4 separate regions of the Homo sapiens genome follow, and regions 1, 2 and 4 are each linked to region 3. Evidence: fine-mapped expression QTL. A gene starts in region 3. Each other region holds a variant in brackets. All regions are shown on one strand. Distances are between the middles of the regions. Region 1 overlaps SUFU (SUFU negative regulator of hedgehog signaling). Region 2 overlaps WBP1L (WW domain binding protein 1 like). Region 3 holds the start of WBP1L (WW domain binding protein 1 like). Region 4 overlaps SUFU (SUFU negative regulator of hedgehog signaling).

Region 1 (7,032 bases), 130 kb before region 3:
CCTCTGCCTCCTGAGCTCAAGTGATCTTCCCTCCTCAGCCTCCTGAGTATCTGGTACCACAGGCACATGCCACCATGCCTGGCTAATTTTTTGTACTTTTGGTAGAGGTGGGGTTTTACTGCGTTGCCCAGGCTGGCCTTGAACTCCTGAGCTCAATCGATTTTCCCACCCGGCCTCCCAAAGTGCTGGGATTACGGGCATGAGCCGCCACGCCCAGCCAATAATAGTAATTCTGATTTAATTGGTGATAAGCACATAGAAAACTAAGACAGGTATTAAATCCAAGGAAAATAGAAAATTATGACAGAAAGGAAAAGTATATTAATATAATACATGGCTCAACTGTAAACAGCATTGATATAGTCATAAAATTTAAACACACCAGTCCACACAAACTGATGGTGCAGTTATCCTGAAAAGGTGGGAAGGTGCATGGAAGAGAGCTAAAAGCTCATCTTCCCTAGTGGGGAGTCAGTAGGTAAAGCCTGAAAAGGAAATACCAGGCCAGGTGTGGTGACTCACGCCTGTAATCCCAGCACTTTGAGAGGCCAAGGCGTGCAGATCACTTGAGGTCAGGAGTTGGAGACTGGCCTGGCCAACATGGTGAAACCCCGTCTCTACTAAAATACAAAAATTAGCTGGAAACGGTTGCGTGCCTGTAGTCCCAGCTACTCGGGAGGCCGAGGCAGGAGAATCGCTTGAACCCAGGAGGTGGAGGTTGCAGTGAGCCGAGATCTTGCCACTGCACTCCAGCCTGGGCGACAGAGCAAGATTCCATCTCAAACAAAAAAAAAAAGAAAAGAAAGAAAAGAAAAGGAAACACCGGGGAAAGTTTATTTAAAATATCAAGGATGGGAGGCTGAGGTGGGTGGATCACCTGAGGTCAGGAGTTCAAGACCAGCCTGGCCAACATGATAAAACCCCATCTCTACAAAAATATAAAAATCAGCCAGGCGTGATGGTGGGTGCCTATAATCCCAGCTCTTCGGGAGGCTGAGGTGGGAGAATCGCTTGAACCCAGGAGTTGGGGGTTGTAGTGAACCAAGATAGCACCATTGCACTCCAGCCTGGGCAACAGAGCGAGACTCTGTCTAAAAAAACAAAAAAAAAATTTAAGGAAAATGCGAAAGAATCATCTACAGAGGTGACAGTTGTCTCCGAGGAGGGGAGCATGGGAAAACAGTGACTATTGTAATGACCCTCATGAAACCGTTTGACTAAACACTAAAAAAGAAAAAAGAAAAAGATATTGTATGAGCTGTTACAGTTTACCCTGCCCAGTGAAAAGAAAGGATGATGTGTGCCAGGTAAAAAGCACACAGTTAGTGCCAAGGCAAGCCCAGGGGAACTTCAGCTTCCCCAGCCTCAGGCTGAGAGTTGAGGGTGAGCCATGGAGAATCATCTGACAGCCCCCTGAAAAGTGTCTGTCTCAGGGGCACAGAAGATAATGGGGGGAACTTGGCTGTGGACCCAATTCTGACCAGCAGGGAGTGTGAGTCCTGTGAGAAAGCAGCTTGGGCAGGCAGAGTTCAGGAGGGAAAACCCTGGGCCAGTAGTCCCTAGAGGAGGTCCCCACAGCGTTTTAGGGGATTTTCTTGGGTGTTCAGCCAGAAGAGGGTTCTCTGGCTACAGTTGGAAAATGCTGGCTTACACAAAATGAAACCGGTACATTTTCCCTCTGTCCTCCTCAGAGTCCAAAATGCCAACATTTTGTGAATCTCTAATCTGAGATGGGACATATTCCATCCACCTTTGCCACACCTGTTTTTCTAGAGGCTTCTCTTAAATTAAAATTCCATCGAATACCCTTTGGGAAGTCCTGCCCTGTCTTCCAGGAAGGCAGTTCTTTTAAGAATTCAAGGAAAAGATAGATATGTCTTCATAGTCTTGAAACCCCGGAAGAAAAGACCACTCAAAAGAGATGGGAGTTTCTTAAGGAGAAATGTAGAAATATTATAGTTACTTTTGGGGTTTTATCTCAGCTCTTTACTCATTGTGCGATCTTGGGCTAGTTATTTAAGTTTCTGAGTTTCAGTGTCTTTATCTGTAAAATGGGGAAAATAATGCCTCTTTATAGAGTTGTGATGGAAATGAAAGGAAGCAAAGTACACAAAGGATTAGCATGGGACCCAGCACCATAGTCTGTGCTCAATAAAGATGTCTCTTATTATTGTGAATAGTCCCCTGAAAACCAAAAGGAGGTCTATTACCTCCAGGGACCAATATAGGTCTGTAGAGAATACTTCACACAACTCAATTTGGAAGAATTTGAACAAATGCTGGAAGGAGAGAGATGTTATGTCAGCATAGACTTTAAAGAACAGGGTCAAGAAAAGCTGAAACTCAAGAACTGAGTCTTGCAAAAAAAGTGCAATGACCAGCAAAAAGGACATTATTTTTGTACTTCTCTTTGGAGCAAGAAGAAGAAAACCTAGACCCAATTGTTTGGACAGAGTAACATTTATCAGTGGCAGAGAGAAAGCAAAATTTGCTTAAGTTCTGTTATGGTTCCATATTAAAGCAAATGGTTATCAGACCAGGAAGGGTCCCACAGGCATTGACAAGAGGGTTGAATCTATTATTTCAGCTCTCCTGGCTCACATGTATTGTGCCTCCAGAACACCAGAATTGGCAGGCGAGAGTCATGAAGCTGGTGTCAGCAATCTTTGAGGGAATGGGAGAGAGGTGTTGGCAGACTGGAAGTACTCGGAAGTTTCAGGATGCAAAAAGCATCTTGCACTCTCTAGACTAGTGAGCTTGGTGTCACTCTCAGTGAAAATTCTGGACTAGATTATTCAGCAAGTAGGCTGTGAACACTCCAAGGGAAAGAGCGAGTCCTGAGAGTCAGAAACAGCCAGGCTTGCCAGACCATCCTCATTGCCTTTTTATTTATTTATTTTTAATTTTTTCCAAAGACCGCTAAGTGGACTCAACATCGTCGTTGCCTTTTTAGAAATGCCTACCTGGCTGGGCGCGGTGACTCACACCTGTAATCCCAGCACTTTGGGAGGCTGAGGCGGGCAGATCACTTGAGGTCAGGATCACTTGAGGTCAGGAGTTCGAGACCAGCCTGGCCAATATGGTGAAACCCCGTCTCTACTAAAAATACAAAAATTAGCCAGGTGTGGTGGTGGGCACCTATAATCCTAGCTGCTCGGTAGGCTGAGGCAGGAGAATTGCTTGAACCTGGGAGGCGGAGGTTGCAGTGAGCCGAGATCACACCATTGCACTCCAGCCTGGGCGTCGCAGCAAGACTCTGTCTCAAAAAAAAAAAGAAAAAGAGAAAAGAAATGCTTACCTGCCCAAGTAGACAAAGGAAGTGCTGTAGACCTTATATAGGCGGGGTTTAGCAAGATGTTTTGAGAACATTCTGACAGCATTATAGGCAAAACAGAAATGTCCAGAGAACATCCAGAAGGGTGAGGGCCGTGGCGATGGGAAGGTTGGGTTGATTTATAACTGGTTGGATGAGCATACCCAAAGAGTAATGATGTCAGTCCGTCAGCCTGTCTGCCTAGCCCTTTCCTGTTTACTTTTTAATCAAAGCCTGGGATGAGAACATCGATGACGAATTTATCAGTTTTGTCAGTGATCTGAAGTCAGGAAGGAATGCCAATATGATGGATGCCAGAGTCAGGTTTCAGAAATACCCGAACTGCCGGAACACTAGCCAGATAGCGCAGAGTTCTTCTGCTCCTAGCTCCATGTAATCAGCCAGACATATGGGGGAGAACGGGTCCCAGGGCATCCCATGGGAGAAAGCCCGAGGGAGATTTCGTTGACAGAGGGAGTGCAGTGTGAGTTGGTAGTATGAGGAGGTTACAAAGAGTAGATAATTCGATGACAGTTTTAATAGAAATAAAATGTCCTGGACAAGAGAGATCATAGTCCCTCTGTGATCTGCACTGGTGAGGTCACATACTATGTTTATTGCCACACACGACACTTCACTTCTGGATGGGACATCAAACTTTGACAGGTTAGAATGAGCCCAGGGGAGGTGACTTGAATGGATGGAGGATTTCAGAACCTTGTCAAGAATCTAGTTAAAAGTTAGAGCCACAGATAGTAGAAAAAGAAACTTGGTGGGATGTGAGAGCAGCCTCAGGGATTGGAAAGTCTGTTATGGGAAGATGGATTCAGCTCGCTCTGGGCAACTTGAAGAACAGTGGTTTGAGAATTGCAGGAAGGCAGCTTGTGCTCTGTAGAAGGAAGAGAGCCCTGGCGTCACCTCCCTCAGTAGAGCAAAGGCCTCAGTGTTTCTGTTGGACTGTAGTTGGGCCTTTCCAGAGCACCAGTGGTTGACCAAAGCCTGCAGGGTCCACTCAAGGAGTCAGGAGCTCTTTCAAGCCCCATCTCAGAAGTACCCTCTCCCAAGCTCCAGGCAAGAACCTTTGTTCAGCAGGGAACTGGCCTGGCCAGAGGCAGTTGTAAAGGCAAACAAGTTTTGGTTAAGCCATTGACATTTTTACAGGAGGAGCAGATAGACTTTTAGAGGCAGCCAGCTAACGTCAACACATTAATGCACTTGTCAGATATATTGTGAGCACCTACTACATCCCAGGCACTATTGGCCTTATCTGAGTCATCCCATTTAGTCATAATGACCTATTGTTATTTATTCTTGTTAAGAGGATACCAAAGCCCAGAGAGAAGTTAAGCCCAATGTCACATAAAACTGGAACCCAGAACTTAAGCTGTTAGCCACTCTGCCTCCTGGAGCACAGCCTTGGCCCCATGCCCCTGGCAGTCCCCAGCGGGTATGAGCTGTGCCTCCCTGAGAGCCCCTCTCCCTTCCAGCCCC[C/T]AAAGCCATGCCTTCCCCTCCACTGGGAACTCAGGGAGAAAACAGCCCAGCTGAAAAATTAGGCCATGCTGCCGAGCACACTACTTATTTTTTATGACTAAGATTAAGCTGACAACCATGCAAAACATTGCAAACCTGTGTCGGCTGCAGATTTAATACCTCACCTAGCCCACACAAATAATTCATGCTTCTGCATCGATGTCCAGAAGAAACAAATCAGCAGAAAACTGGGTTCTTGTGTGTGTGTGTGTGTGTGTGTGTGTGTGTGTGTGTGTGCACGCGCATGTGTGTGTGTGTGTATAGCAGCCGCGTTTCCATCGAAGCAGCATGCCGGAAATACCCAAGCTCCAGGACTGCAAATCTTGCATTTTGCAATTTTTTTTTCTCTTAAAAGATTAAAGTACAGTTTCAAATGATTGAAGGTTGGTGGGAGGTGTAAATGTGGGCACTTGTCACATTAATTCTTCAGATGATTAAGTTCTTTTCCATTTCTTTAAGGCTGTTTGCAGTTGGGTTTGATGTCCTGGTTCTGGGTGAGTGTGTTGTGGCAGTTACCAAGGTGACTTTAGCTGACTTTCAACAATTTATTTTTCCCTCCAGCTTGAGACGTCTCTAGCCCTGTGTGCTGTTGATTCTTTTCTGCAAGCCCCCACCCCACCTCCCATTGCTATTCATGAGCATTTTTGCCTGCACCATAGAGGCTGGGATTCTCTAGCACGCCCTGCCTGGACAAGCTAGGCCTCAGCCCCTCTCAGGAGGACAGTAGTGTGTCTGGAGGCAGGAACCGGTGGTCAAAGATGGCACAGGGGAGTGATTGTGAGAGTCACCCCCTGGTCCTTTCGCTTAAACTCACTCTGAGCCCTTCGGCTCGTCACCTCACCTCCCTAAGCCTCAGTTACCTCCTCTGTGAAAGAAGGCTTGACAACAGAGCCTACCTCGTGCTTGCTGGGAGGAATCAGCGAGTGAACCTATGGCCTTAGCAGAGGGTTGGCGCAGAGTAAGGGCTCAGGAAACATGGCTCAGGAAACACTGCTTCCTGAGTTCTGCTCTTGTTTGGGCCCTGAGGGCACCCTATGTCTCCACTGAGCCCTCACCTGTGACTGCTGCCTCCCTCAGAAGGAAGGGAGGTGCAGTGGCCCTGGTGGAAGGGAAAGAGAGTTGGTCGGAAGTCTGAGGCTTCGATCAGAAGTCTGACGCACGGTGAGGGGGGACGCGTCACCCACTCTCTTTTGTAAAGGAAAGAGGGAGATTAAACAACCTCAGAGTTTCCTTCCAGTCCTGAATACTGTGACCCTCTTGGCCATAGCATTTGTCTCCTTCACAGGTCTTGCGCAAAGGCGAAGCCAGGGGAAAAGGCAGTTTTAGAGCTGGCTTTAGGAAAGCAGAGGAAGGGACCGCTTTGTGAAGGAACAGTCAGATCCAGGAGTGAGTCCTCACAAGGAGAAGGCCAGCAGGCAGGCACGGCCCATGACCTCAGGGGCACGTCTAACCCACTGCCGCCACAGGGCCATCCTCTGTCTTTGGCCTGCGGACCCTACACCTTCCCCTGGGGAGGTGCCCTGCCTGTTGGGGTGCCACCCTGGCTGCAGGCCCCAGCACCTAGCCCCGCAACGTGTGAGGAGGTTGGGCCTGCCCCTCAGTGGCTGTCTGGCTGTCATCCTGGGTGGCTCCTGCCTGCCACTTGAATGATAAATAACTAGAGCTTCTCACCCAGTTTTTGATGGACACTTGGGGAATTGTTCTGAGATTCACAGCCCAAACCAGGATCCGGCCTTTTGAATGGGATCAGTGGGTAACTCTTATTTCTGGCTGAGGCAGATTTGAGAGGTTGTCAGTGGGGGCAGCTGAATTTGAAAGAGCAAATCTTAGAATGCAAAGGGACCCTGTGTCCCAGCCGTGGGCCGCACTTTTGGTGGGGAGCAGGCAGGAGGGAGTGTGGGGCAGCAGTGACAGCTCACCGTGCCAAGGCCACAGTCAGGAGGAATCTGGTACAGGCTCCTGGGGCCTTAAAGCCCAGCAGGGCGGGGGCCCGGTTCTGCTTTCCAGCCAAGCCCACTGGTCTGACTCGTAAGAGCCCAGCTTGTACTCAGCAGTACAGATTGTATCATCATCTGGTTAGATGAAGGGTGTGAATGTCCCTGCAGCTCCTGGCTGTTGGCGGAATGTGCATCCTCAGAGCCTTCAGGGTCAGCTGGACAGAAACTCTTGGAGCCGCATCTCATGGTGCT
Region 2 (7,349 bases), 54 kb after region 3:
TGCAGTTAGCTGTGATCAGGCCACTCTACTCCAGCCTGGGCAACAGTTAGACTCTGAGTGAAAAAGAAAAAAGTAGGGGGGTGCGAGGAGAGCTGGGGCCAAACCCAAGGCTCCTGGGTTTTCCATACCACTATTGACTGACACCAGCATGTCTCTCTGAAGGAACTCACTTTGGCACTCATATCTCACTATCTCCTGAATCCTCCTTCACCTCTTCCTTGCTAGAGGTACACCTTCTTTCGTACCGCTGCAGCAGAAAATGACAGTTCCCATAACCAAGACTATCCCAGGCAGCTCAGGGACTCTGTATTTAGAGGAGGGAGAAGGACCACAGGGGACTAGATATATAGATGGCCACAACTTGTGATGGTTCAACTTAGTGATTTTTCAACTTTATGGTGGTGCAATTGATACATGCAGCCAGTAGAAATCATTTGTTTTTCATTTTTAATACAGTATTAAGTAGATGACATGAGATATTCAATACTTTATTGTAAAATAATTTGTGTTAGAGGATTTTACCAAACCATAGGCTGATGTAAGTTCCGAGCAGTTTAAGGTAAGCTAGGCTAAGCTATGCTGTTCAGTAGATTAACTGTGTTAAATGCATTTTTGACTGACGATATTTTCAATTTATGATGGGTTTACCAGAACATGACCCCATCGTAAGCCGAGAAACTTCCGTACTGTGTTAAAAACTGTTTGAGGAACACTGGATTAAATGATGCTTCCACTGTTCTGCTCTCCCTGGGAAAGCGGAGGCAGAACGGTGAAGCAGAGTGAGGTCTTGTTTATTCCAGGCCCCCTGCCTCGGTGCACAGAAGATCCGAGAGAAAAGCTGACTGACAGCAGTAGGTCATGAGGATGCCACTTGTTTAGATTTCAAATGCATTCCACTCTATGTCTCACTTAAGACCAGTTGACAGCCATGTGTTCCGAGCCTGGGCTGCCTCTGGTGAATTTTCCTGAGACAGAAGTGTCATTGGATTCTTTCTTGTGCCAAGTGTAGGCACCACTGCCTCTTTTAGAAACTATGTGGACACTTTGAACTGTGCTCTTTTAAGCCAGTGCCGGAAGAATGGCATTCGCAGGGCCTGGTAAACTGGGGAGAAACTTTCTGATGTTTTTATGAAAGGCATGTTTTGCTCTGAAGTCAAAGAGTGTGTGTTCTGGCCAAAGTAGCAAGCATAGATCTGCTTTTTCCACACGCACCAGGCTTCAGAGGAGAAGTTGACTAGATAGCCAGTGTCTCATTTTGTTTGTGGTGGGCATGGGATGGTGAAAACGGAAGGAGGAAGAAGTACAGGGGACAAGATATTTAGATGGTCCACAACTTGCGATGGTTCAACTTAATGGTTTTTCAGCTATGATGGTGTGAATGGCATACATGGCCAGTAGAAATCATTCTGTTTTTCACTTTTAGTACAGGATTAAGTAGATGGTATGAGAAATCCAACTTGATAGCCAGTGTCTCATTTTGCTTATGGTGGACATGGGAGGGTGGTGGTGGGGCGGCGGGGGAAGGAGCACATAGAAGGAACTCTGCGTGCAATGTTGTGAGGGCCTCATTGTCAGGGTTTATGAATTTCTCGTTTCCTTCTTTCTAAACTGTCATATCAGAATGTAAAGTTTTTAAGACCAAGAAACACCTAAAGATTTATGGTGGAAACGTGCACTAAGCCGGGGAACTGGTTTTCAGTCCTGTGCTTTCTCTTGTCCTCTCCGTGTGGCTTCAGGTGCCAGTCCTGTTTCTGCCCAGCCTCTAGCCCTGTAGACAGTCACTGGAGTGCCTGGTGTATACCCTTGGCCAAGTAGACAGTGTAGTAAAGCATGGCCCAGAGAGGAGGAGCCGACCATGTGACTTCAGTTTCCACTGGCAGCTGTCCGCCGGATGTGCACTGTGGGCAGGGCCAGCCTGAGTTGCCGCAAATACTGTGGCTTTAGTTTATTTGCTGAGCAGGGCTTTTTTCCTTCTTAACTCTGAGCTTCTTGGGGATAAGGACAATGTCTTATTCATCTTTGTATCCCTTGAACCCAACACAATGCTTGGCACAAAGACAGCGTCCAGTAAGTGACTGTGTTATTGTTTAGAATGAAGAAATGTTGAAGGCCACATATAGCAGATGCCTTACAGGTTTCGTCATCTGCATAGTGGCCCCAAGTACATTTTGGGCTGAGGTTAACGTTGGTCTGGGAGGTATTTTATATCTTACATGTGAAACTTTTTTTTAAAGTTCCCCTCCATCCTCATCCACCAGTGCTGTGGACAGAATTTGGCAGACAGCTAGATGGCCACTCAGTAGTGCCCTTTATGTGAGTGTCCCTGACAAGGGACAGTATGAATCCTGGATCCAGTCAGGATTCTTTTTCAATAAGCAAAAATGATCTAGCAGATTGAAATTAGACTGGGTTATCTGAGCAGTTCGGCCCTTTATTGAAAAGTAAAGAATTTCAGTTGTAGATTTTTTTTGTTGTTGCCCTCTTTAGGATCACACTGTGAATTAACCTTGGAGAGAAAGTGTTTTAAAAAGAAGAATGGAATAACTGAGCAGATGCTAATCCTAGAATACATACCGCTTTAATTATTCCAGGAAGTTTCACAGAAAAGCCAGTTTTATTTAAAATGTACTGCTAATTACCAGGGAATCATCACCCTCCTACCGGCTGAGGTTAGCACCGGAACATGAAATGTTTCTACTTGGACCTAAAGTGAGGCAGCCCTTGCCTGTCCTGTCTGAGGAAAACTTCACTCTGCCAATTGCTTTTGTGTCCTGAATCTCCTCTCCTCTTTAATAAACCATATTTTTTCCCCTAAACTCTGTTGTTGTTGTGTAAATCTTTTAAAGTTTTTTTTGTTTGTTTGTCTTTTTTATTTTTTATTTTTGAGATGGAGTCTCGCTCTGTCGCCCAGGCTGGAGTGCAGTGGCGTGATCTTGGCTCACTGCAATCTCTGCCTCTCTTGTTCAAGCGATTTTCCTGCCTCAACCTCCTGAGTAGCTGGGATTACAGGCGCGCACCACCACGCCTGGCTAATTTTTATATTTTTAGTAGAGACGGGATTTCATCATGTTGGTCAGGCTGGTCTCGAACTCCTGACCTCGCGATCTGCCTGCCTCGGCCTCCCAAAGTGCTGGCAATACAGGTGTGAGCCACCGCGCCTGGCCAAAGTTGATTTTCTTAATGGAATAAACATTGATACAAACTGTTTTGGGGGCTGGTGAATAGACAACCAGGAGGACAATGATGAGAAGGAAAGTGTTCAAAAGCTGTCATTTAATATGCTAACATGCTTTTTTAATTTTTTAGGATAAGGAAGCCTGTGTGGGTACCAACAATCAAAGCTACATCTGTGACACAGGACACTGCTGTGGACAGTCTCAGTGCTGCAACTACTACTATGAACTCTGGTGTAAGTCCTTGCTTGGGTGCCTCTCAGTATCCCAGGGTCCCAGTTACTGCCTCTGCTTAGTGGGAAACTCTGGGCATTAGCCCTTTTCGGATTCTCTTGGGGACAGTGTTGGTGAGTGGAATCTGTTTATGGGTTCCAGAAGTGCTTCCTTTGTAGAGGAAGAGAGTTCTGGTGCTCTTTGGACTTTGTTAGCTGAAGACTAGAGAATATGGTCTTAGCCAGGTCTGCTGCAGAAGCTCTTGCCTGAGGTTCTCCTGGCTGCCCTCTCCATTGTGTGCTGAGCAGCTGACAACAACTTAGATGCTTCCTTGGGCCCTCCCAGAAGCCCAGGTTTGCCTTTCTTTTTTTTTTTGACGGAGTCTCGCTCTGTCACCAGGCTGGAGTGCAGGCGCAACCTCAGCTCATTGCAGCCTCTGCCTCCCGAGTTCAACTGATTCTCCTCCCTCAGCCTCCTGAGTAGCTGGTACTACAGGTGTGCACCACCATGCCCAACTAATTTTTGTATTTTTAGGAGAGATGGGGTTTCACCGTATTGGCCAAGATGGTCTCGATCTGTTGACCTCGTGATCTGCCCGCCTTGGCTTCCCAAAGTGCTGGGATTAGAGGCGTGAGCCACCACACCTGGCTGGCTTGCTGTTTTTGCAGAGAGAGGTTGCAAGCCAAGCTACTATGAATGCCAGGCCACTCTAGATGGTCACTATGCCATTTTCTTGTAAGGACCACAGGGGCTTCCAGAATTTCCCATAGAACCTCATGGAGTGCCTCTGTTTCTGAGGGTCCTTCGGAAAGGAACAGTCTTTCCCTAGGTCCTTGCCTATAGAGGACCTTCTGGAGAAAGGGAGTCTTGAGGCTCAGCTCCTTTTATTTCTTACCCAGTTCTCACATGGAAG[T/C]TCCTGGAGGATTCTCCAGTGTACCTAACCTTTTACTGTCAGCTAAATCCCATGTGGAGGCTGGGCACAGTAGCTCACGCTTATAATCCCAGCACCCTGGGAGGCCAAGGCATGTGGATCACTTGAGCCCAAGAGTTCAATACCAGCCTGGCTAACATGGTGAAACCCCCTCTCTACTAAAAATACAAAAATTATCTGGGCATGGTGGTGTGTGCCTGCAGTCCCAGCTACTCAGGAGGCTGAGGCAGGAGAATCACTTGAACCCGGGAGGCGGAGGTTGCAGTGAGCCGAGGTTGCGCCACTGCACTCCAGCCTGGGCAACAGAGCGAGGCTCCATCTAAAAAAAAAAAAAGAAAAATGCCATGTGGAAACCATCTTTGTCTTGCCACTGGTTTGACTGAAGCCAGAACCACTTGCTTCTTCAAGTTGCACGACAGTGGTGATGGTGTTAGGGTCTTCAGGGAGTGACCCAAGGTTGCTTCAACTGACACTCTTTGTACTCTGACCTTCCTGGAACTCAGACGAGACAGTGTAGGATGCTGGACAAAGAATGAGAGGGTGTTGGGGGGGTGGTGCTTAGGACAGCGAGGCCCCAGGTGACTGACATTGCCGTAGTTCTTACAATTGTCTCTTGAGAAAGGAGACTGCAGGCGGTTTCCCCAGATGATTCTAAGCCCTCATCACTGCCTCCATTTGGAAACAGACTTCGGGTTTGTCAAACCATGACCTTGCCCCCACCATCCTATCTGCGCCTTTCCCCTTTCTCATCCCCCCCATCAACCCCTGTGTCAGTGATATGGCAAGAAAGCAGCCAGAAGGACTATTGTTTGGTCCAGAAAGGAAATTAGACTCTTGGCTGGGAGGTCTGTCCATCTGAAATGCAGTTGTATTTGTAGCCAACAGGAGTGGTTCCTCCAAACAAGACCTCTCCCTCACCCTCGCTTTTCCCTTTTGAGGACTGAGGACGGGCTCATCTGCCTTTCTGAGGAATTCCAGGAGCAGTCCAGTGCAGGAGAGCACAAGGCTCAAGATGTCCCCACCAGACCTGCAGATATATAAGCAGCAGTGAAGGAGGGCACAGTCATTGTTGCTATTTTAGAAGGGGTGGGGCTGAGAAACTTACTAGAGGACACACAGTGCCAAGCAGGTAGACAGACTCTGTTTAAATGTTTTAAAATGCAGATAACCACAGGGTTCAAATTCTCCTTCCCACCCTTTGTTAAAACAAAAGTTGAAGCTGGGCTGCCAAAAAGCCACAGAGCTGTAGTTTGTTTTTCTGGGTCCTGGCCAGGCGGCATCAGTTGTGAAAAGGAACGAAGTTGCTCATGGCCCCGTCTCAGATTGACAGAGCCTCCTGGGCTTTTGGCAGAGCCGACTCAGGAGCCACCTGAATTGGGTCACCAAAGCCAGGGCAGGGGGGTGGAGTGGTGGGGACAGGGAGACCCAGAGGGCAAGGAGGTAGTCTGGGAAAGCAGGTGCCTCACCCCAAGGGCTTAAAGAAAGTCAGAGAAAGAGCTGCATGAACGGCTAAGTGTCTCTCTAGCTACGGGCGTTTAGGAAAGGAGGCCCAGCAGAGAGCAGTGTCTAGACGGAGAGAAAAGGTGCCCCGTTAAATGAGCTGGCATGTGTTTTCCACGTTCTGGAGGCATGGGAGACATAAAAGCAAAACGCCCTTCTCAGGAAGTCCTCCGATCTCCCTCTTTATTGAGGTCATGGCTTCTGCCTGGTGTGTATGGGAGGGAGGTTGATGTTGGAACAAACACCTGAAGTTCTCATCAAAATGGCACTTTTTGTTGCTTTCAACCCTGTTCCCTCTAACTGCCTCTCAACTTTGCCTGAAGTGTGAAAGTCACGGGCTTTGGGCTGATTTCCTTCCCACCTTCCTTTGGAAAGAAAATTCCTCAGCCAGGAAATCCTTTGGCAGAGTTTTCATCAGACAGGGCAACTCCTTAACTATAGTTGCCTACAGGAAAGGCCTCCGGGAAAAAATGCCATTTCTACCCACCCTTTACCTCTACTAAACTGCATTTTCCTGTGTGCTGAGGAAAATTCTCAATTCTCACACACATACTTACACACACACACGGTTTACACAGACACACAAGCACACATAGACCTGAGCTCTGGCCGGCAACCTTTCCCACATGTCTTTTCAATGTTTCATAACCCAAACCAGTTATTGGGCCTGCATGTGTTGAGAACGGCAGATCCTGTTTAATAGGGGCAGTAGTTGAGGCTATTAAGGACCTGATCGTTGTTAGTATTATCTCCATGCATTTTTACGGCACCTGTACTTTAATTCATCATTCCATCAGTTATTCATTCAGCAAACCCTTATTCCAGTGCTCTTGAACTTTAGCAGGCATCAGAATTTCCTGAAGGGCTACCGAAAACACACACTTCTGGGCCCTACTCCCAGAGCTTTTGATTCAAAACTGAGAATTTAAAAACCTGAGAATGTGCAATTGTAACAAGTTCCTAGTTGATGCTGTGACCTCCTCTGGGCTGGAAACTGGAGAGACAGAATTCTTACCTTCAGAAGGTAATCCAGCGGGGAGGGGATAGGATGTGCATTGGCCCAAACCCCAAAGCCACTCCTCCCTGTTCTCATCCTGGGGCTCTCTCCACTCAGCAAGCTACATTTTCCAGGGAGAGATCAAAGTTGGGAATTTCTGCCCTTGAGATCATTTGGGAGAATTTCACCCAGGCATCAGTTTCCCCTGGTTTGGGCTTTAGGAGGGAGAGGGGTATGTTTCTGGACAGTGGAATTTCCCTGAAGTGACACAAAACAGGCTATTAGCAAATCCTGTCAGTGCTGCCCAACTCGTTTTTCATTTTTTATTCTCTCTCTTTTTTTCTTTCTCTCTCTCTTTCCTTTCCCTCCCTCCCATCTCCCTCCTCCTCTCTCCCCTCCCTCTCCACTCTTCCTCTCCCCTCCCTCCCCACTTTTCCTCCCCCCTCCCTCCCACCCTTCCCTACCCTTCCCCCCACCCCCACCCTTCCCCCACCCTGCCACCCCTCCCCCACCTTCCCACCCTTCCCCCCACCCT
Region 3 (7,138 bases):
GAACATACAATGTTTCCCCTTCCTTCTCAGCTCCTCAAGCCTCTTGGATTTCCTGTTCTCTTATAGACAACTGCTCTTTTGGAAATGTCTGGAAGGTATGTGGTGGCTATAATGTTCAGGGACATTCTAAAAAGTGGTCACTCAAACTGCATCTCAGTCTCATTTTGTAACATCTCTCTTCTTTGAGTTGGCTGCTGTGGGATGTTGAATAAGAGGCAGTTAAGGTTACTAAAAGGCCTTGGTGTGGGAAGTGCTAATCCAGACTGTCCTATCCAATAGCTCAGCTTGAGCTTTCAGGTAAAAGGAGAAAGGGAAGTTGGGGCAAAATCCCCTGTGTTTGCCAAACTGAATTGGGGTTTCTTATTTATTGAGAGAAAGAGGGTATCACTTTCTTGCCCAGGCTGGAGTGCAATGGTATGATCATGACTCATTGCTTCCTCAGCCTCCTGGACTCAAGTGATCCTCCTGCCTTAGCCTCCCGAGTAGCTTCTTTTTCCTGAGTTCGGCTAGAATAGCATGGGTAAAAGGTTCCATTGCTCGGGAGAGGAGGAGGAAGGGAAGAAGAAGAGGTATAGAAGCTTCCTTTTGATCCAAGGTCTTTTCCTCAATCCTGGCTAGAACCAGAATCCTAAAGGTTTCCTGACTACAGGTACATGCCACCATGCCCAGCTAATTTTTAAATTTTTTGTAGACAGAGGGCCTCACTATGTTTCCCAGGTTGGTCTTGAACCCCTGACCTCAAGCAATCCTCATGCCTTGGCCTCCCAAAGTGTTGGGATTACAGGCGTGAGCCACTACATCCCACCTGGGGTTTCTTAGTGATGATGAAACCTAGCCTTTATGTGGAAGACTTACAACTTTTTGAGGCCAGGAATTAGAGACCTTGTGCCATGAAAATAATTTGGTCCTTCCCTAGTACTCAATTTTTACTTCTCCTCTAAGGAGCTTGACTTGTGGAATGGATAAATTTCTAAGAAACGAGAGATTGGCAAAAATACGTGTCACTTTTTATAGTACTTGGAAAAGCAGGATCAAGATAAAGGCAGAACTATGGACTTTCTTAAGCTGAGGGAAGACTGACTTAACTCTTACCTGTTTCCCATTTTTCCAACACTTAAGCCAAGAACAACTTCCTCTGGGCTCAGATGTGGGCTAGACTGGGCCAGGCTGTAAAACACTTTGACAGGTTTTTGAGAGGAAATTGACTGCTAAAGTCAACTGTGTTATTTGCCATGGGTCTTCCTTTGTCCATTTATTTTACCAACTTTTTTTTTTCTTTTTTTTTTGAGACAGAGTCTCACTCTGTCACCTAGGGTGGAGTGCAGTGGCACAGTCTTGGCTCACTGCAACCTCTGCCTCCCAGGTTCAAGCGATTCTTCTGCTTTAGCCTCCTGAGTAGCTGGGACTACAGGCATGCACCACCACGCCTGGCTAATTTTTTGTATTTTTAGTAGAGATTGGGTTTCACAATGTTGGCCAGGCTCGAACTCCTGACCATGTGATCCGCCCACCTCGGCCTCCCAAAGTGCTGGGATTACAGGCAGGAGCCACCGCACCTGGCCTTTTTTTTTTTTTGAGACAGGGTCTCACTCTGTTGCCCAGGCTGGAGTACAGTGGCACAATCAAGGCTCATTGCAGCTTCAATCTCCCTAGCTCTGGTGATTGTCCCACCTCAGCCTCCCAAGTAGCTGGGACTACAAGTGTGCACCACCATGCTTGGCTAATTTGGCTAATTTAGTTTTTTTATTTTTGTAGAGACAGGGTTCTCTCCATGTTGCCCAGGCTGGTTTCAAACTCCTGAGCTCAAGGGATCTACCTGCCTCAGCCTCCCAAAGGGCTAGGATTATAAGCATGAGCCACCACACCTGGCTATTTTACCAACATTGATCAAGCTCTGGTTGAGCCTTGTACAGGATATTATAGGCTTTAAAAGAAGAAGAAGAAAGACCTGGTATGCTGTACAAAAAACTGCAAACCAGGCACGCAGATATAAGTGTTACAAGAATCCAGAAGAAGCAGCAAGGAGATGGGGCTAGGAGTTTGTAAGCAGGGAACTGTATCTGTAATATGTAAATGAAGTTACTGGGCATCTCTTCAATGGTCAGTGTGAGTGGAATGTGTGGGAAAATGTAGTGGTGAGAGGTGAGATAAAGAGAAGTAGACAGGGACGAAGTCACAGAGAGGACCGTGTTGGGAAGTTTGGACTCTCTATTCTGTAGGTAGATGAAGTATTTAAAAGAAGAGGCCATGATATAGTAATATTTGGTTTAATGTGGTATGGTTGTAGTGTGTGGCGGAAATTTGAGAGGAAGAATTGTCAACTTGCAGGGCAGCAGGGAAGCCATTTGTATTTAGCTAGAAGAACATGGATTGAAGCAATGGATGATGGATTTCAGAGCAATTTGTGAAGTAGAACCAGAATTTTGTCCGTCGAACTTGGGGTGACGAAGCACTATGCCTCAGATAAAGGTACTATCTTCTAGGGAATTCAAACGGACCTAAGCTGCTATTTGGGCAGTTGAGACCAAGAGAGGCATCCTGGTAATAGTGCTGTGCTTCAAGACAAAAGACATTAAAATATTTTTACATTGCAATTGTTTTCCTCTTCAGGAGCGCCTGGTTACCTTTCAGGAATAATTTATTTTCCAACACCCTTGAGAAACATTAAACCTTTTTTCTTTTTTTGATGTGGAAAACTGGAAAACTAGTACTTCCGCCACACTCAAGATGGCTACATCAGAAATAGACTTTTCCATCCACCTGGGTGGCCCCGCCCCCTTATGAAGCTGCTTCCGCCACTCTCTGCGGGTTGGGACGAATTTTACACTTCTTCGCAGCATTCAAGATGGTCCGGCTTCCTCCTACTTTTTATTGGCTGCATCGCTTCGTCTTCAGGGGAAGGCGGGACTTATATTTGATCGACAGCTACATTGATCAATGGACAAAGGGCAAAGGCCAATGAAGCGCTGGAACTGGAGAGTCTCTCGCGTGTCTGGGAGGGTGTTTTGCGCGGGGCGGGGTGGAGCAGAGCCGGAAGCGGGAGGGGAGCGTCAAACAGGAAAAGAAGGGAAGAAGGAAGAAGAGGGTAGAGGAGGAGAGGGAGGAGGAGGAGGGAGGTGGCGGCGCCGTGGCGGAGGAGCAGGAGCAGGAGGGGGATGGAGAGGAGAAGGCTCCTGGGTGGCATGGCGCTCCTGCTCCTCCAGGCGCTGCCCAGCCCCTTGTCAGCCAGGGCTGAACCCCCGCAGGTAAGGGGGAGGGGGCGTCTGGGCCATGTTGGGTCCTGGGGGTCGTCGAGGCCTGGCTGGAGGGGTCTGAAGGAGTGTTGTTGCCAAGAGTTGAGGGGTCCCGAGAGGGGCGTCTATGCCTGGCGTGGACAGGATCTAAAGGGGCGTCGGTATTTAGCTGAGGGACACCTGTGACAGTTTTGGTGTCAAGGAGGTGGCAGAGGCATGATGCCAAGCGAGTGAGGGGCGTTTGAGACGGCAGGTTGGTTAGGTGGGCTGGGGTGACTGTGGCTGGATAGCGGTGCCAAGCTGAGGATGTGGGCCTTATTCGTGTCCCTCTGTGGAGCAGGTGTCCCAGGCAGTAATGCAGTATGTACGTCTGTGTGTGTAGGGGTACACAGGCTATTGAGTTGGCCTGTGAGGGAGGGGATCCTGAGGATATTTCTTTAAGGATGGACTGGGGAAAGTTCCGAGGGCATCTTAGTACGTTTAAAAAAAATTACTATGTTCCTGGGAGAGACTTGGCCCCATTTTAAAATCTGTAAGCCATGGCGCACTTGGTTGGAGGGAGGACTCTCAGAAGGCAGGTGGGATGAAACAGAGTGGAACCCCTCAGGAGGAGGAGCACACTTGAGCTGTAACAAGCTCTTGCTGTTAGGCTGGCTGGCCTGGGAGAGCAAGTCACGGATGCTGATCTGAGCCAGCTCAGGGCTTTTGACCAGAGGGTGGTTCTGATGCCAATATGGGCAGCAAATGGAGCACCCTAGCTTTTCTTGCTGGGTGGCTTGCTCTTTATCCAGGCAGAGAAGCTTGCTTGTGCTGATTCCAGCTCCAGCTGGCATTTCAAAACCCTAATGGGAGCGTTACTCCTGGTGCCAAGTTGGGTGGGGTGCAGTGGGGGCAATCACCCCTCCTTCCTTGCATGTGGCAAAGCTTTATGATTCTTTTTTCTTCACTTTCTGTTCTTTTCCCCGTTTTTTCAGAAAGGCATACACACATAGACGCATAGCGTAGTGGCAAAGTTTATACAACTTAGCGCTTGAACTTGTGTTGTGAACAAGAGCAGAAACTGAGTGCCAGCAAAAATACTTATCTTTTCCCTAGGAGTTTTAGGGCTGCCTTTTCACAAATACATCTTGTTTTGCCCATTATCCTCTATTTTAAAATACTGATTAAAAAATAAGTTGAAATTCACATGACAAAAACCATTTTAAAGTGAACAATTCAGTGGCATTTAGTACACTTACAATGTTGTGCAACTACCACCTCTATCTAGTTCCAAAACATTTTCATCACCCCAATAGAAAACCTCGTCCCTACTAAGCAGTTACTCTCTGTCTCCCTTTTCCCCCAGCCCCTGGCAACCACCCGTCTGCTTTCAGTCTCTATGGATTTATCTATTCTGGATATTTTATATAAACGGGATCCTACAATATGTGGTCTTTGTGCCTGGCTCCTTTCACTTAGCGTAATGTTTATAAGGCCCATCCACATCGTAGCATGTACTAGTACTTCATTCCTGTTCATGACCAAGTAACATTCTGTTATCTGTAAACCACAATTTATTTATGCATTGAAGTGTCTAATTTTTCCTCAGGATATGTTTGTGTATACTAGAAATACCATGTGAAAGGAATGTAGCTCATTTTCTAGCCCAGTGTATTCCCTTTTCGAGGGTTGGGACCCTTCTGTTTTAGCCTTTGTTGGGGTTGTTTTTCCAGTGGAAATCATAAACTGGCAGAAGAAATATATTTTTTTTGTTTACTAGAAATGTTATAGCCCTCAGGACCAGTAAAGTTAAGTATAGGTATTGACAACAAAATATAGAATATAGTAAATACAGAATTTACTTTTCCTTTGCACATGTCTGTTTCTGTAAGTATCTCGAAAAGGCTGTCCCCAGTAACCAATAAATAACATCGGTAGAGGTTTGGTTTAGGAATGTCAGAGCCTTTGGAGATGGGCTGGTCAAAGATAGGAACTAGATCCACTTTTTCAGCAACGGGGATGATGGAAAGTGGAGGTTCCTACCAGGTCGTGGAGCCTGGGAGGTGTTGTGAACATGTGGAAGGGGATTGTTAATGTTATATTCTAATTGCAGTTTGCAAACCACAGGCTGCTTTCTTATATCTGTGGCACTTCTAATACTTAATTTTGGGGACAGGTGTCTTTTGTACTTTGTTCCATTTGGATGAATGCTATCACTGACCAACAGCTGTTACACGGTTACAATTCCTGCAGAGAAGGGAAAGTTTTCGTAATGAGCAGTGGCCCTCTTCCTAACCAGCCCCCACATACCCTCACTCCTGACGCTCCCTATACAATTCCATCCCCCACCTTATACTCCTGTCTCTTTCTGTCTGGGAGTACTAGATATCTATAGTGAGATTTCTGTTTTGAATTTTAACCTTCGGAATGCAAGTTACTATATAATTATTAACTCTGAATCCACCGCAATTTAGTCAGTGTATTTTTTTGGGTTTTTTTGGGGGGGGTGGGGGAAGGGGTTGCTTGTACAAATCAGTAAGGAAAAAAAAATCCCAAGGCCATTTTGGCACAGGGCATACTTTAAGTACCCATGGTCCTTAATTCAACAATGAAGTCCAGCTAACTTTGAATTCAGGAGGACTTACTATACTCATTCTGTATCGAATAATGGTATTGGTACCTTATTGCATTTCTCCCACAAAATTGATCTACTTACAATACAATCTTTTTTTTACATGCACAATCTTTTTTTTACATACACATTTACCATCAGAAATAAATGATACTAGGCAACTTGCTTTCCCTGTTACCAGCTCTGCACTGAAACAGCCATTTCTTGTTTATGCAGGCAGGCCCTGGAAAGTTCATCAGCTAGTTCATTCTGTGGTTAGGAACTTAGACTTAACTCTCCTACAGGTTATGACATTACAACTCACAGACGTGAATCCTTAAATCTATAAAGAATGAAAAAGGCTGGGCATGGTGGCTCACCCCTGTAATCCCAGCACTTTGGGAGGCCAAGGCAGGCAGATCACAAGGTCAGGAGATCAAGACCATTCTGGCCAACATGGTGAAACCCTGTCTCTACTAAAAATACAAAAATTAGCCAGGCATGGTGGCACACCTGTAGTCTCAGCTACTCGGGAGGCTGAGGCAGAAGAATCGCTTGAACGTGGGAGGTAGAGGTTGTGGTGAGCCAAGATCATGCCACTGCACTCTAGCCTGGTGACAGAGCGAGACTCCGTCTCAAAAAAAAAAAAAAAAAAAAAAGAATGAGAAAACAGTAGATGCTCCAAATAGTAAGGCTCCGACAGCCTTGGCGTTTGTTTCCTCCAGTTAAATTATCATTGAGATACATAGAGTTTCTTTTGGTTGTTTAGATTTAACCAGAATGTTTGTTTTTGTTGTTGTTGTTTTTGTTTTGTTTTTGAGACAGGATCTCACTCTGTTGCCCAGGCTGGAGTGTAGTGGTGTGATGTGATCTTGGATCACTGCAGCCTCGACCTCCCAGGCTCAAACGAGCCTCCCACCTCAGCCTCCTGAGTAACTGGGACTACAGGTGCATGCCACCACGCCCTGCTAATTTTTGTATTTTTCTGTAGAGATGGGGTTTCGCCATGTTGCCCAGGCCGGTCGCAAACTCCTGGGCTCAAGCGATCTGCCCATCTCAGCCTCCCAGAGTGTTGGGATTACAGGCATGAGCCACTCTGCCCAGCCTAAACAGAATATTTGACTATGTTATTTAAAACAAAGTTTTGGTAGAAATGTCTTTTTTTAATAGGGTAACTCAGCCAGTGGTTTAGGGACAAATCTCTAGAGATGCAGTCCTTACCTTTCCTTTGCCAGGCTTAAAACTTTGAGCTGGGCCTGGCACGGTGGCTCACACCTGTAATCCCAGCACTTTGGGAGGCCGAGGCAGGCGGATC
Region 4 (7,349 bases), 190 kb before region 3:
CACTCTGTCCCCCAGGCTGGAGTGCAGTGGTGCGATCTCGGCTCACTACAAGCTCCGCCTTCTGGGTTCAGGCCATTCTCCTGCTTGAGCCTCCCGAGTAGCTGCGACTACAGGTGCCCGCCACCACGCCTGGCTAATTTTTTGTATATTTTAGTAGAGACGGGGTTTCACCTTGTTAGCCAGGACGGTCTCGATCTCCTGACCTCGTGATCCACCCGCCTCAGCCTCCCAAAGTGTTGGGATTACAGGCGTGAGCCACTGTGCCCGACCTTATTATGTACCTTCTTATGTGTTGCAGTGTGAGGTATGTAACATCAACTATGTAGCATTTTCCCAAAAATGTTTAACCTGAATCAAGTTATAAGCAGACAAATACAGATTGTGAGACACTTTACAAGACAAATGCCTATATTCTTCAAAAATGTCAATGCTCTAATCCCAGCAGTTTGAGAGGCTGAAGCAGGAGGATCACTTGAGCTCAGGAGTTTGAGACCAGCCTGGGCAATGAAGCAAGACCCTGTAAATTAAAGATTAGCCAGGTGTGGTGGCATGCCTATAGTCCCAGCTACTTGGGAGGCTGAGGTAGGAGGACCATTTGAGCCCAAGAGGTTGAGGCTGCAGTGAGCCATGATTGTGCCACCACATTCCAGGCTGGGCGACACAGTGAGACCCCACCTAAAAAAAAAATACACACACACACACACGCACCCCAGTGCTATGAAAGACATAAAAAGGCAAGGGGCAGGGACTGTTCTACATTAAAGGAAACATGGCAGTTTAAATGCATTGTTGATCCTTGATTAGATCCTGAATTGAAAAAAAAGGGTCATTTTTTAAGGACAATTGGAAAAATGTGAATTTACACTGTGTATTAGTTAATAGTACTGTATGTGAAATTCCCTGGATGTGATTATGGTATTATGGTTATACAGGATAATGTCCCTGTTGCTAGAGATAAAGGCTAAAGTATTAACGGATAAAAGGACCTGATGTCTTTAACTTAATTGTCAAATGACTCAAATGATTTAACTTAATTGTCAAAAAATAAAACATCTGTGTATGAAGAGAAGCTAAAGCAAATGAGGCGAAATGTTAACAACTTGTGAAGCTGGGTGAATGGTATTTGGTTATTCATTGTATCATTCTTTTAACTTTTCTGTAGGATTGGAAATTTTCAAAATAAAATAAAAGTTGTGGCTGTTTGTTGAGTATACATTGACTAATATGTGCTCTGAGGCCCTTTCTGTACCTGATGGCCCCACTTATGGTCGTTATAATGTGCCTGCTGTAGTTTGTGTCTGCAGATCACTTTAGGGACGTCAGAACGGGACAGGGTGACTACACTCCTAAAAGTGTAATACTTGACTTTCTATTTTCCAGATTTCTTGTGATATGATTGTATTATTTAAATAACAGGTAAAACAAATCTACTTTAAATTTTTTTTAGAACATGGTAGGAAATAATAGTAAATTGTTTAAATAATGGGAAAATGATAAAGAAAAGTAAATGGTAACTGATTTAAGATAGGAGACCATGGCTATGGGCCTAAATGGTGATGGGAATGACTAACATTTAGACTTGTGCTCTGTGTGCCATTGAATATGTGAGGTTAGGGACTGTGATATACCAGCTTTTCAGTTGCAGCAAGCAAGACAACACAGGTTGAGCTGCATGTTCAAGATCACACATCTAGTGGGTACAAAGGCAAATTTTTTTTTTTTTTTTTGAGATGGAGTCTCGCTCTATTGCCCAGGCTGGAGTGCAGTGGTGTGATCTTGGCTCACTGCAAGCTCCGCCTCCCAGATTCACGCCATTCTCCTGCCTCAGCCTCCCAAGTAGCTGGGACTACAGGCGCCCGCCACCGCGCCCAGCTAATTTTTTGCGTTTTTAGTAGAGATGGGGCTTCACTGTGTTAGCTAGAATGGTCTCCATCTCCTGACCTCGTGATCCGCCCGCCTCAGCCTCCCAAAGTGCTGGGATTACAGGCGTGAGCCACCGCGCCCGGCCACAAAGGCAAATTTTAACCCAGACAGTGTAGCTCTGAATGGCAGCTCTTGGCCAGACACGGTGGCTCATGTCTGTAATTCTAGCACTTCAGGAGGCCAAGGTGGGAGGTTGGCCTAAGCCCAGGAGTTCAGGACCAGCGTAGGCAACATAAGGATATTCTGTCTCTACAAAAATTTTAAAAATTAGCCATTGTGGTGACGCGTGCTTGTGGTCCCAGCTACTCAGGAGGCTGAGGTGGGAGGATTACGCATAAGCCTGGAAGGTACAGGCAGCAGTGAATGGTGATTGCACCATTGCACTCCAGCCTGAATGACAGAGTGAAACCCTGTCTCAAAAAACAAAAACAAAAACAAAAACAGGTCAGGCGCAGTGGCTCATGCCTGTAATCCCAGCACTCTGGGAGGCCGAGGTGGTTGGATCACCTGAGGTCAGGAGTTCGAGACCAGCCTGGCCAGCATGGTGAAACCTCGTCTCTACTAAACATAGAAAATTTAGCTGGGCATGGTGGTGGACACCTGTAATCCCAGCTACACGGGAGGCTGAGGCAGGAGAATCACTTGAACCTGGGAGGCAGAGGTTGTAGTGAGCTGAGATCACGCCATTGCACTCCAGCTTGGGCAACAAGAGCAAAACTCTGTCTCAAAACAAAACAAAGCAAAAAAAAGTACACATAACTGTACAGCTTGATGAGTTTTCACAAACCACATACACCCATGTAACCAGCACCTAAATTGAGAAACAGACCAGTTCTCTAGAAACCTCCCTTACGTCTCCTTTTAGTCAATACTCTTACCGTCTCCTGACTTCCAACATCATTCTTTTCTTTTGTTTGATTTCACTGCATAGTTAGATCCTTAGCACTGTGTGTCTGAACTCATTGCTAATAGCTTAAGTAGCTCCGCATCCCCACTCCTCTTGCCTGAACTGTTCTCCATCTGCCTGTGACTGCCAGATCAAGGCAGCAGCATGGTGTGGTGGTTTAAGAGTGTGGCCTCCTGACCCAGATAGCCTGCATTCATATTGGCTCTGCCAGTTACTGCCTTCTTGGGCAACATGTACATCCATTTGCTCAGCTATAAAGCAGGGATAATAGTAACCGCATGAAGTTATCGAGAGGTGAATTAATACCTGTAAAACACTTAGAATGTGCCTGGTACGCAGTAAGTACTATGTTTTACCTGCAATCATTATCATTATTCAGTCTTTAAAAACTTTATATGGATTGGCCGGGCGCAGTGGCTCATGCCTGTAATCCCAGTACTCTGGGAGGCCGAGGCGGGCGAATCACAAGGTCAGGAGATCAAGACCATCCTGGCTAACACAGTGAAACCCCGTCTCTACTAAAAATAAAAAAAATTAGCCGGACGTGGTGGTGGGCGCCTGTGGTCCCAGCTACTTGGGAGGCTGAGGCAGGAGAATGGCATGAACCCAAGAGATGGAGCTTGCAGTGAGCTGAGACTGCGCCACTGCACTCCAGCCTGGGCGTCAGAGTGAGACTCCGTCTCACAAAAAAAAAAAAAAAAAAAAACTTTATATGGATCAAGATGGACACCTTGGTCTTTTTTTTTTTTTTTTCCTCAATGACAGACCCTACTTAACAGCAAAACTGTATTAGGAAATGTCTTGCTCGTCCCTG[A/C]ATCAGATATGCAGCCTCAGCTGACATGATGACATTTGGAGGCATTATCTTACTCACACGGAAAATCAGTAATATTGATACAAATAAAATTACCTCGTTTTGTACATCATATTATATAGCTGAAAACATTCAGTTCAGGTGTGGCTCCTTGGTTTTTTGTAGTTGATTTATGTAGTTGCCTGTGAAGTCTTAGGCAAATCAAACCCTATTCTAAGTCCGGTAGAGCCTATGCAGTTTAGTGGGACCTTGTAGTAAATCCTTTAATAAGGTGAAGAATCTTTCTATAGTGTAAGTAATTGCCCCTTATTGTAAATATTTTGTAAGATTGGGTGTAGGTCTATCAGGTTTTCTCAGAGCAGATCACTCAGCTGCTGCTGCAGAGCACCTCCTTTGTGACTTGTAGGCATTACTCTACCCCTGTGTGGTTACACGCTACAAGAGTTACATGCATATGTACTGTACAGAACGTGTGTCATTTATGTTTGATGTGTACACAGATATACCTGCCTACGTACATAGTGTTGTAATTCTGTTTGATGGTCTTGCCTCACTTGTGCTGTCCACCTTAAACTTAGTGAGTTTATGGGGAGCACTCCACCCACCCATTTGCACGTGAGAACATGCTCAGCAGTGTAATCAAGCAAGTGAACTGTTTAGACCTGCTTTTCCAGATCTAAGTGACATCCGCAGTCCTACAACCCAGCCTTGGAAATAGCATCAAGGCAGTGGGAGGCGAATGAAAGGGGAACGATGAGGCTCCGGTGGGTGTGGGGGCGGGGGCGGAGATGCCCACAGCCAGCCATGGAGCTGTATGAGGCAGCCTTGGAAGCCTGCTCTGAAGCATGACTCAGATGGCTTCTATAACAGCCCTGACCTGCTGGCAGACAGCTACCCTCTGGGAGGTTTGCGCAGAGGTGGAAGCTGAGCTGGAGAGAAAAGGAAGTAGAAATGGGAGAGATCTGAGAATGAAGAGCATCCAGAGGCAGTGAAGGCTTCCAGATATGGCTAGATATAGACAGATTAGGGTGATTTAGTTAGGATTCTTCTAGTTATAAGAAAATGGGCCAGGCATGGTGCCTCAGGCCTGTAATCCCAGCACTTTGGGAGGCCGAGGCATGTGGATCACCTGAGGTCAGGAGTTTGAGACTAGCCTGACCAACATGGAGAAACCGTGTCTCTACTAAAAACTCAAAAATTAGCCGGGAGTGCTGGCACGTGCCTGTAATCCCAGCTACTCAGGAGGCTGAGGCAGGAGAATCGCTTGAACCCGGGAGGCGGAGATTGCAGTGAGCCCAGATCGTGCCACTGCACTTCAGCCTGGATGACAGAGTGAGACTCAAAAAAAAAAAAAAGGAAGGGAGGGAGGAAGGAAGGGAAGAAGGAAGGGAGGAAGGAAGGAAGGAAGATGGGTGGGGCACAGTGGCTCATTACTTGTAATCCCAGCACTTTGGGAGCCCGAGACAGGCAGATCACTTCAGGTTAGGAGTTCGAAACCAGCCTGGCCAACATGGTGAAACCCTGTCTCTACTAAAAATACAAAAAATTAGCTGGATGGTGGTGCACATCTGTAATCACAGCTACTCAGGAGGCTGAGGCAGGAGAATGGAGAATCACTTTGAACCTGGGAGGCGGAGGTTGCACTACTGCACTCCAGTCTGAGCAATAGAGCGAGACTCCCTCTCAAAAAAAAAGAAATTAGCTTGATGTGGTGGTATGCACTTGTGGTCTCAGCTACTTGGGAGGCTGAGTTTGAGCCCAGGAGGTCAAGGCTACAGTTAGCTGTGATCATGCCACTGCACTCAGCCTGGGTGATAGAGCAAGACCCTGCCTCTAAAAAAAAAAAAAAAGAAAAAGAAAATGGCAGAAACCCAACTGAAACTACCTTAAACAATAACAGGGCCAGGCGTGGTGGCTCACATCTGTAATCCCAATACTTTGGGAGGCTGAGGCAGTGAGGCGGGCAGATTGCTTGAGCCCAGGAGTTTGAGACCAGCCTGGGCAACATGGTGAAACCCCACAGGGGTAGAGTGAAAAGATTGAAAAAATTAGCTAGGCATGGTGGCATGCATCTGTAGTCCCAGCTATTCAGGAGGCTGAGGTAGGAGGATTACTTGAGCCAGGGAGGTCGAGGCTGCCTTGAGCCAGGGAGGTCGAGGCTGCAGTGAGCCATGATCACACAACTGGACACTCCACCCTGGACAGCAGAGCAAGACCCTGTCTCAAAAACAAAAAACAAAGAAAAACAATAACAGACTTCATTGGCTCAGGTGACTGGGACAACAAGGGTTTCAGGTGTGGCTTGATCTGTATGTTCAAATGGGGTCCTCTGGGCTATGACTATAGCTATGACTCTCTGTATGTTGATCTTGTTCTGCAGACTCTCCCCATGTGCCACCACTGGGGAGATGAGCACCATCATTCCTAGTTTCAGTTTCTCTCAGTTTGTAGTCCCAGCAGGCACAGGGCTTTGTGCTTTTAACTTCGGTGTTTTGTTTGTTTTTTACTGATTTTTTTTTTTTTGAGACGGAGTCTTGTTCTGTTGCCCAAGCTGGAGTGCAGTGACACAATTCCAGCTCACTGCACCTCCGCCTCCTGAGTTCAAGCAGTTCTCCTTCCTCAGCCTCCCGAGTAGCTGGGACCATAGGCATGCACCAACATGCCTGGCTAACTTTTGTATTTTTAGTAGAGATACAGGGTTTCACCATGTTGGCCAGGCTGGTCTCGAACTCCTGACTTCAGGTGATCCACCCGCCATGGCCTCCCAAAGTGTTGGGATTACAGGCACAAGCCCCAACACCTGGCCTGTTTTTTAATTGATTTTTGAGACAGGGTTCTTGCTTTGTCACCCAGACTAGAGGCTAGAGTACCATAGCACCTTTTTAGTTCACTGCAGCCTCAAATTTCTGGGCTCAAGTGATCTTCCCATTTCAGCCTCCTGAGTAGCTACGACTACAGGTGCACACCACCACCCTCAGCTAATTTTTAAACTTTTTGTAGAGACAGGGTCTCGCTGTTGCCCAGGTTTTAGTCTTGAACTCCTGGGCTCAAGTGCTCTACCCACTTTGGCCACCCAAAGTGCTAGGACTACACATGCGAGCCACTGCGCCCAGCCAAGGCTTTAAACTTTGGACATTTCTACATCAGTTCTGGGGTAGGACACAGATTAGTTCTGTCTGGCCATGTGACCACCTTGGTTGGTGGCAGTGGTCCAGATGGACCACCAGGATTTACGTTGAAAGTCTTCCCTCTGCTCATCACTTCCAAGCACATGGAATAGGAGGGAAGTCCTCTAAAGCAAAGGCTAACCACCAGCAGAAGAATAGCACGGCTTTGCATAGGCAAAATCAGTTGCTGCCACGGGACTGGAGGGACATGTCTTACCTCAGTAATCATGGTGTACAGTTAACACTTGGAAGTCAGATTATTAGAGGAGATGTCGATGGAGCGGGCACTTTCTGTTCTGTCTTGTATGTGTTGGGATGGTTTTGACTACAAGTAATAGAACACCCTGACCAGAGTGGCCTAACAATAAGGGCACTTACCTTACATGGCAAGCCATCTGGAGGAGGGGCAATTCCAGGGTTGGCTGCCATCTGTTCAGCGATGTTCTCAAGGACCTGAGTTGTTCTTAACTTCTCTGCCTTCCTTAGCACTTGGCTTGTCTTTTTAAATTGGTTTCCTCATATTCCAGAGATGGCTGCCATG

The links. PIP is the estimated chance that this variant, and not a neighbour inherited with it, causes the effect.
Region 1: its variant is the best candidate, but not a certain one, in a credible set for the expression of WBP1L in whole blood (TOPMed, PIP 0.64).
Region 2: its variant is the best candidate, but not a certain one, in a credible set for the expression of WBP1L in whole blood (TOPMed, PIP 0.58).
Region 4: its variant is the best candidate, but not a certain one, in a credible set for the expression of WBP1L in whole blood (TOPMed, PIP 0.52).

The regions. Positions count from the first base shown.
Region 1 is chr10:102,607,130-102,614,161 of GRCh38, forward strand. All of the region lies in intron 8 of SUFU (SUFU negative regulator of hedgehog signaling), which reads left to right. Among named protein-coding and RNA genes, the nearest start is that of TRIM8-DT, 33 kb to the right of the region's middle. The variant C/T (reference allele first, on the strand shown) is at 4,805.
Region 2 is chr10:102,794,687-102,802,035 of GRCh38, forward strand. It overlaps WBP1L (WW domain binding protein 1 like), which reads left to right. Exons shown (of 4, transcript NM_001083913.2): 2 at 3,307-3,409. Among named protein-coding and RNA genes, the nearest start is that of CYP17A1-AS1, 34 kb to the right of the region's middle. RefSeq lists an enhancer at 1,624-1,673. The variant T/C (reference allele first, on the strand shown) is at 4,300.
Region 3 is chr10:102,740,899-102,748,036 of GRCh38, forward strand. It overlaps WBP1L (WW domain binding protein 1 like), which reads left to right and starts at 3,050. Exons shown (of 4, transcript NM_001083913.2): 1 at 3,050-3,245. The coding sequence starts at 3,156. SFXN2 (sideroflexin 2) reads left to right here. Exons shown (of 12, transcript NM_178858.6): 12 at 1-2,594. RefSeq lists enhancers at 2,697-2,746, 3,687-3,916 and a silencer at 3,027-3,186.
Region 4 is chr10:102,551,755-102,559,103 of GRCh38, forward strand. All of the region lies in intron 3 of SUFU (SUFU negative regulator of hedgehog signaling), which reads left to right. Among named protein-coding and RNA genes, the nearest start is that of SUFU, 51 kb to the left of the region's middle. The variant A/C (reference allele first, on the strand shown) is at 3,645.